Regions from separate parts of the Homo sapiens genome. Here region 1 is reported to be linked to region 2. The links are microRNA targets in miRTarBase. Many come from high-throughput screens and were not tested one by one. Region 2 holds a microRNA gene; the other region holds the end of a gene's coding sequence.

Region 1 (4,000 bases), not on the chromosome of region 2:
TATTCCTGTCTTTCACCCATTTTCTGATTGGATTGTTTCTTCTGTTGAGTTTTGAGAGTTCTTTGAGATTCCTTTATGGGATTTTTGGTTTCCATTGGTCTGTAGCTTATCTTTTTCACCCCTCCCCCTCCCCCCCTTTTTTTTTTCCTGAGACAGAGTCTCACTTTGTCACCCATGGTGGAGTGCAGTGGCACAATCTTGGCTCACTGTATACTTGACTTCTGGACTCAAGCAGTTCTCCCTCTTCAGCTCCCCATGTAGATGGGACTATCACCACACCCAGCTAATTTTTTTTTTTTTTTTTTTTGAGATGTAGTTTCACTCTTGTTGCCCAGGCTGGAGTTCAATGGCGTGGTCTCGGCTCACTGCAACCTCCGCCTCCCAGTTCAAGTGATTCTACTGCCTCAGCCTCCCGAGTAGCTGGGATTACAGGCATGTGCCACCACGCCTGGCTAATTTTGTATTTTCAGTAGAGATGGGGTTTCTCCATGTTGGTCAGGCTGGTCTCAAACTCCTGACCTCAGATGATCTGCCCGCCTCAGCCTACCAAAGTGCTGGAATTATAGGCATGAGCCACCATGCCCAGCCTATGCCCAGCTAATTTTTTATAGAGATGGGGTTTCACCATGTTGCCCACACCTGGTCTCAAACTCATGAGCTCAAGTGATCTGCCTGCCTCAACCTCCCAAAGTACTACAATTACAGGTGTGAGCCACCGTGCCCGGCCATCTTTTCACCCTCTTAACAGGGTTTTATACAGAGCAAAAGTTTTCAGTTTTGATAAAGTCCACTTTACTGATATTTCCTTTATGGACTGTTGCTTTTAGTGTTGCATTTAAGAACAACTCTACCTAGTCTTAGATCCCAAAGGTTATCTGTTTTTTCCTAAAAGAAGTTTTATAGTTTTAAATTTAAGTATGCATGTGAGCCATGTTAATTTTTGTATAATGTGTAAGACTTAGGCTAAAGTTCTTTTTTTTTAATCCTATAGCTGGTCCAGCTGCTCCAGCACCGTTTGTTGAAAGGCTGTCCTTCCTCCATTGAATTACTTTTGCACCTTAAAGTCAGCTGGGCATATTTGTGTGGTCCTGTTCCCGTGATGATCTCGGCTCTGTCGATCTGTGTGTCTGTGCCTCTGCCAGCATTGCACTCTTGGTTCACATAGCTATATAGTAGATCTTGAAATCAGCTGGACTGATTCCTCCTCTCACTCTATTCTTTTTCAAAATATTTTTGCTATAAATTTGTATATGAATTTTAGAATAACCTTGTCTACATCTACAAAACATCTTCTAGGATTTTGATAGGAACTGCATTTAACCTGTATGTTAATTTGAGGAGAATTGATATCTTTACTGTATTCTGTCTAGCAATCCATGAACATGGCATGTCTATTTAAATCTTTGATTTCATCACGTTTTATAATTTTCAGCATACAAGTCCTTGCATATTTTGTTAGATTTAAACCGAAGTATTTCCCTTTTTCAGCAATTGTAAACAGTACATATTTTTAACTTTTGTGTCTACATGTTCATTTCTAGGAGGTAGAAACAGGTTTTTGTGTGTTTATCTTGCACCCGAGATTTTGCTGGACTCCCTAGTTGTCTGCTTTCTGTAGATTCCTAGGATTTCCCACATAGACAAGCATGGCCTCTGCATGAGAATACCTGGATCCTCCCCTCAGGGCTTCTGACTTAGGGTCTGGACATCAGGACTTTTTAAACCTTCCTGGTGATTCTGATAAGCAGCTGAGGTGGAGAACCACTGCTCTTTGACCTTGTCGTCAGTGAGCAGAGGTGCCTTAAGCACAAAAGCCTAGTGCCAGGACCCCGCATCCCGCCCACTCTGCACTCGGCCTATCTTGCTGTCGGCCGGCATGGCTAACAGGCGTGGGCCCTATCAGACAGTCCCTGGTGACTGAAGCATGGGCTCCTCTCGGCCCAGGAAAGACGGCTAGGCTGTAATGGATAGCCAGTTTTAATGAACAGAGGATACTGATTGGTATAAAAAGGTGTGTTTGTCACTGAGGTGTCCTCATTTTCTAGATGAGGAGTTGTCTTCTCCATGGTCTTGAACGCCTGCTTCGCCATGGCACCAGCGTCTGGGTGCACGCTGGCTGTCGCCACAGGGCAGGAGCTGCTCATGGAAAGGTGTGTGCCCCTAGTGTGCAGCACTGGTCAGCTTTTCCACATAGTAACAACAGCCTTGTTCTGGGCCTGAGAAGGCCCCCAAAGGTAGACGAAAAGGAACCATGGCCAAATGCCTATCAATCAGCCCGGTACCTAATGTAACCCAGGACCCATGTGAGGGAGGCTGAGCCTTCACCTTTCAGCCCTTCCCTCAGCATGTGGTTCTCAGTTTAGGGCAGAGCTTCTTAAGATTCACTTTCTGGCGTTTAGGGGCCCAGCCCCACCAGCAGTACAGGCCTACACCAGTGTAATTTGAAACGTACAGACGGTGGAAGAGGAAGTCTAGGGAGCTTGGGTCCTTAGACCACCAGGGAGCAGGGAAGGGATGGGAAGGGCTGGGGGGCGGCGGGGGCTCACCTTCCTCTGCTTCCCTGTGGGCTGGGTTCAGAGCTCCTCAGTGTCCTGGCCTCCCAGGTGGGATCAAGCAGGGTGGGTGCAGCTGCAGCGTTCCAGGCAAGAGCTCAAGCTCCAGTACCAGGAACATAAGGGGACATAAGGGCCTCAGGCAAACTAGGGTTACGGGCCACTGCCCCAAGAGTTGAGTGGGCCACAAGCAATCCCCAGTGCCCAGGCGCTTCCCCATGAGAGCCGCCAGCAGGCAACGGTGTGCCAGGCCGGCCTGAGCGGGGCCAGTACACAGTGGGTGCGAGGCTTCTCTCAAATGCGCGCTCCAGCTCATCAGTCTTAGGGCTTCTGAGGCAACCTAGTGGGTCCTGGACTTCTGTTGCTGTGGGGCCTCAAACCTGTTGAGTAGCCACCTCAGATGACCAGAACCCACCTCCAGAGTTCCTATGACCAAAGTTGTCTAGAGCCGCTCCGGACACTGCCAGGGTTGCTACTGACAGGAATGGGGTCCCCAGAGAAAGCCATGCCCACAGGCATCCACCAGCTGCAGACAGGCCCGGCCCCTGCATGGCCTGCCTTGGCTGCACCTTGTACATCCTGGATGGCATCTGCCGGCCACGGGCTGAGTCCCCACACACACAGACTGGCCCTGGAGAGAGCAAGGCAAGCCCCCTAACCTGGGACAAGTGGACACTGAGGACTCCCAGACCCAGCCCTGGGTGGCTCCAGCTTGGGACTGCTCCCTTAAGGCTCGTTCTTGGCCCTCACTCTCCTCCCCTTCCTGGCCCTCATCTGGACCCGCGCTTTCTGCTGCCTTGTGGTCCTCTGCTCCAGCCCTGGGAGGGAACGCGGCTCCCCTGACACTCGAAGCCAGGGAGGCCTCTCTCTTTGCCTGCTGGGCCCGGTGCCGCTCTTCAGTTCTGCCAGGGCTGCTGAGGCGGCACAGGCCAGAGAGGGAGGAACCAGGGCTGAGGGCAGGAACCACAGAGGTGCAGACGCGGGGGCGGGGCACAGGATGGAATGGTGGCAGTGCGAAAGGCGCGGCGGGGGGCGGTGCTGCGGTCAGCACCGGGTGCGGGGATGCGCCACGTGGGCCTGCAGGGCCTCCCGGATGCCGCGCTGCCAGTCTCGAGCCAGCTGCACCGGGGTCACGGAGGCCTGGGAGCAACGGTGTGGGTCAGTCCCTTGCAGGCGCTCCACCCGCCCTCGGGTCAGGAGCCAGGGCTGCGCCCACACTCACCGCGTTCCGCACCCCCAGCTCGGCCCCATAGAGCAGCAGTAGCTTCATGGCTTTGTAGCTGCCGTGCCGCACGGCCTCGTGCAGAGCCGTGTCCCCTTCCTGCTGAGAACGCAGGCAGTCAAGCTTCTGCCTCCGCGTGCTGCCCTCCTCATGCAGGAAGGTCAGGGCTGCTGTCACCGAGCAGACAGCACCTCTGGTCCTGGCTGGGGCTCCTCAGTCCCTGCTC
Region 2 (4,150 bases):
CATTGCAAGCCCACTGATGTCTTTTCTTTCATGTAAGGAAATGAGGGCCTACTGTGGGCAAGGCACTTTGGAAAATACAAAAATGAGTAAAACACACCCTCTGTCCTCAAAAAATTCTTACACACAAATGAAAAAGACATACATAAACTATTAAATAGGAAGGAAAACTTCTATTAATAAACACAATCGAACATCAAGAACTCTTGGAAAACTCAATTTTCAAGTAAAACTGGTTGTACTCCTCTAAAGAACAAAAGCTTTCCTTAAAATCAAACATCCTAGGCTGGCACAGTGGCTCATGCCTGTAATCCTAGCACTTTGGGAGGCTGAGGTAGGCGGATCACGAGGTCAGGAGTTACAGACCATCCTAGCTAACACGGTGAAAGCCCGTCTCTACTAAAAATACAAAAAAATTAGCCAGGCGTGGTGGTGCGCACCTGTAATCTCAGCTACTGGGGAGGCTGAAGCAGCAGAATCGCTTGAACCCGGGAGGCAGAGGTTGCAGTGAGCCGAGATCACACCACTGCACTCCAGCCTGGGTGACAGAGCAAGACTCGGTCTCAAAAAAAAAAAAAAAAAAAATTAAGCATCCTAGATAAAATATTTCTACTTTCCTAAACATAAAACAGTATAACAATAAAAAGAGCTAACATTCATTAAGTTTACTAATATGCTAAGAGCTTTACATACTTTGGATTTAGTCTTCATCAAAACCCTGAGATAGGTATTATTAATAGCCCCATTTTAAAAAGATACAGCTGAAAAAGAGAGGTTATTTGCCCAAGTCACATAACTAGTAAATGATGGAGCTGTGATTCAAACACAGCAGTATACCTCTCTATTTTGATGCATTTATCCATTAATTCAAACATTTAATGGCCACCTACTGCATACAGAGCATCATACTGGGAAATGAGAACAGGGCAGTGAACAAGATAGGATCATTCATGAAGTTCACCTTCCGACTAAAAAACAGACATTCTCGGCCGGGCATGGTGGCTCACGCCTGTAATCCCAGCACTTTGGGAGGCCAAGGAGGGTGGATCACCTGAGGTCAGCAGTTCGAGACCAGCCTCAACATGGAGAAACCCCATCTCTGCTAAAAATACAAAATTAGCTGAGCGTGGTGGTGCATGCCTGTAATTCCATCTACTTGCGAGGCTGAGGCAGGAGAACTGCTTGAACCTGGGAGGCGGAGGTTGCGGTGAGTCGAGATCGCACCATTGCACTCCAGCCTGGGCAACAAAAGCGAAACTCCGTCTCAAAAAAAAAAAAAATCCTCATTTTTCTAACAGGTGAGGTAATCATAGATTGCACAAAAGGTCATAAAGGAATAAACAAGGTGGTGTGACAGAGTAACTGGGAATGCCTTACTTCTGTTAATGGTGTGATAGAAAGGCCTCTTGCAGTTTTGTTCTGTTTGTTCCCAAAGACAAGCTGGCCAGACAGCCAGGCCAGGGACCAGAGCAGTAGAAAGAAAGACCTCCTAGTGATCACAGAAGTGTTAAGGAAAATCCCTAATTTCTTCTTTTTGGTTTTTTGTTTTGTTTTGTTTTTGTTTTTTTCTTGAGACGGAGTCTTGCTCTGTTGCCCAGGATAGAGTGCAGTGGTGCAACCTCGGCTCACTGCAACCTCCACCACCCAGGTTCAAGTGATTCTTGTGTCTCAGCCTCCTGAGTAGCTGGGACTACAGGCGTGTGCCACCACGCCCAGCTAATTTTTGTATTTTTAGTAGAGACAGGGTTTTGACATGTTGCCCAGTCTGGTCTCAAACTCCTGACCTCAGGTGATCCACCCGCCTAGGCCTCCCAAAGTGCTGAGATTACAGGTGTGAGCCACCATGCCCAGCCAAGCCCATATTTCATCACAGATGTATAAAGCGCTTAGAATAAGTTACAGTGACTTGATCAAGGTCTCAAGCTGGGATTGGGGGAACAGCTGTGATTTCAGAAGACAGGTGACACTTCGGAAAGGAAAGAATGTAAACATAGCCTTTGGCTAGAGCAAGAGGCTCAGAAGAGGGGCCCTGAATGTGGGGCTGGAATCCTGAAAGCAATGAGGGATACGCATAATCAGACTGCGGGAAAAATAACTTCTGTACAAAAGGTTTTGTTTGATAGGGTTTTTTGTGGGCGTTTGTTTGCAAGGGGAGGAATTACAGTAGAGAAATAAATTAAGAGAGTATGACAACTGATTTGGTGGGAAATTTTAAAAGCTGACCATAGGAGGTGGTAACAGAAATGAAGAAAAAGAGACAGTTGGGACAGCCACTCTGGGAATATTTGAGTGCATGTCTAACAGTGATACCAGAAATATACCTGCAGAATCCAACATGTAAATACCTCCAATCCTAACACACGGAATAAACCCTAGATGTTTTGTTTTCACAAATTTGTCTAGCATTTTTCCACAAACCCCAGTGATTCACCTTCTTTCTACCTGTTTCATGAATGTGGTTTCACACTACCTTTTTAAAATCTTAACAGAAGATTGTAATACATATTAATTCAAAATGCCACCTACTTTTAAAGTTATTCTACTCAGATGGTACAACTGTCAAAAGCAAACACTGTTTCTTAATTTCAGGTCCCACACAGGCCACAACAAGATAGAATTTGGGAATTTTAAAGAATCTAAAGGACGTGTACTAGGTCTAACATGAGTAATGCTCAACATGTTAAACCTAGTACAGGTCCTTTAGATTGTTCGGTAATGCTATTTTTAGATCAAGCAACACTCCTCCACGTGCAAGTTTTTCCAAATTATACTAACAAGGTCAAGGATCATATCCTATCTAAAAACAAGACTGTATAACACAGCTAAGACCTTTTGCAATCGCTTATCTACAAATATTGTGACGTAAAGATTGTATTTATTTATATCTTTACGTTTTTATGTTTTATGTTGGAAAACACTTTTATTATTTGTATTGTGTTCATATATCTGCCTTCATTCTTATTCATATTTTTATTTATGGCAGAGTTAAATCGTACTAGAATCCTTTAAAAAATAAAGGACTTTACATTATAACAGCATTTCACGTTCCTTGGATAATCTGGGTCTCAGAAGAAGCTTGTGAAACTTACAAAGAAAGCTATAATCATCCCCTCTGTACAGTGTAACACTGGAACTCAGAAAGATTAAGTAACTTTACTAATTCAAGATCGCACAATAACTGGCAAGGGCAGGGCCCCAATCAGGCCTTCTCTTTATTCCGGCTCTCCTCCCCACAGGACGCTACCAATTTAATATTTGAATATTCATGTGCCTCTCTTCACTAAACCTGGACTGTAACTAAGAGCCATACTATTGCCGCCCAGCCCTCATCCTGGGTCTCGAAATGCAGCAGCAACACTAGTACTCTTCAGTAAACAGAAACACGAGCACACGCTTCAGTCTGGACCCCATTCAACGCTGGGTTTGCTCTACTGCACAAAACTTAAAATACACTACAGCATTCACGCCTAACCCTCAATGGAACTGTCCTTTTCACTCTGGGAAATTCAGTCACAGGTGACTCATCCCGTTAGCTTACAGTTTTGTAAATTAATAATTTTATATACCGAAAGAAAAGAATGAATTACACAGACCTCTCCCTTCCCCACCCCCAAAGTTGCTTAAGTGTCAAAGCACGGTAGTAAAGCACAAAGAAGTGGGGCTGGAGCTAGCTAGCGTTCCTCCTCTCTGCGACTCCGACGGTCCTCGGGCCACCCATCTCTCAGAGCCCGGCAGGTAGCTTCAGCCCCCCACCCCGCAGGGACCCGACGGACGGCCCGGCGCCTCCAGCGCCCAGACCCGAGCCCCGCCGGTGCTGCGGATGTGGAGGCTCGCGACGCTCGGGCTGCCCTCCTTCCCGGCGCCGCTACCTGCCTCCGGCAGCCCGCACACCTGGCGGCCCCCGCCCCAGCGCGGGGAACCGGCCCCAGAACGCGGAGGTCTAGCGCGGCCACGCGACCCCGCACAGCCCGCTTCCGCCCCAGCCCACATGGCCGCGGCGGGTGGCGCCCCCGCCCCCGCGTGAGCCCAGCGCGGTTCCCGAGGACCCAGGGACCCCAGGAGGCAGGAGGGGGCGGTGGCGACGCGGGTGGGGGGAGGAGGAAACGCGGCCGGGGGGAAGAGGAGGAGCGCGTCCCGACTCGCCGCAAGGGCG

What was found. The annotated mature microRNA hsa-miR-3684 reads UUAGACCUAGUACACGUCCUU and lies in region 2 at 2,637-2,657, opposite strand. An mRNA with a match to its seed (bases 2 to 7 or 8) in the 3' UTR can be bound and repressed. Matches are read on the target gene's strand: a 7mer-m8 pairs with bases 2 to 8, a 7mer-A1 pairs with bases 2 to 7 and ends in A, and an 8mer does both.
Region 1: the mRNA of ANKRD23 is a reported target of hsa-miR-3684. Seed matches in the 3' UTR shown: 7mer-A1 at 2,489-2,495.

What each region holds. Positions count from the first base shown.
Region 1 is chr2:96,835,953-96,839,952 of GRCh38, forward strand. It overlaps ANKRD23 (ankyrin repeat domain 23), which reads right to left. Exons shown (of 9, transcript NM_144994.8): 8 at 3,775-3,873; 9 at 1,960-3,692. The coding sequence ends at 3,597. It also overlaps a transcript of CNNM3 not described here. Among named protein-coding and RNA genes, the nearest start is that of ANKRD23, 6.1 kb to the right of the region's middle. RefSeq lists enhancers at 1,373-1,929, 1,930-2,484 and silencers at 3,624-3,683, 3,824-3,923.
Region 2 is chr4:98,995,941-99,000,090 of GRCh38, reverse strand. It overlaps MIR3684 (microRNA 3684), which reads right to left and starts at 2,704; the gene lies at 2,631-2,704. All of the region lies in intron 1 of METAP1 (methionyl aminopeptidase 1), which reads right to left. RefSeq lists an enhancer at 3,175-3,957 and a silencer at 3,699-4,150.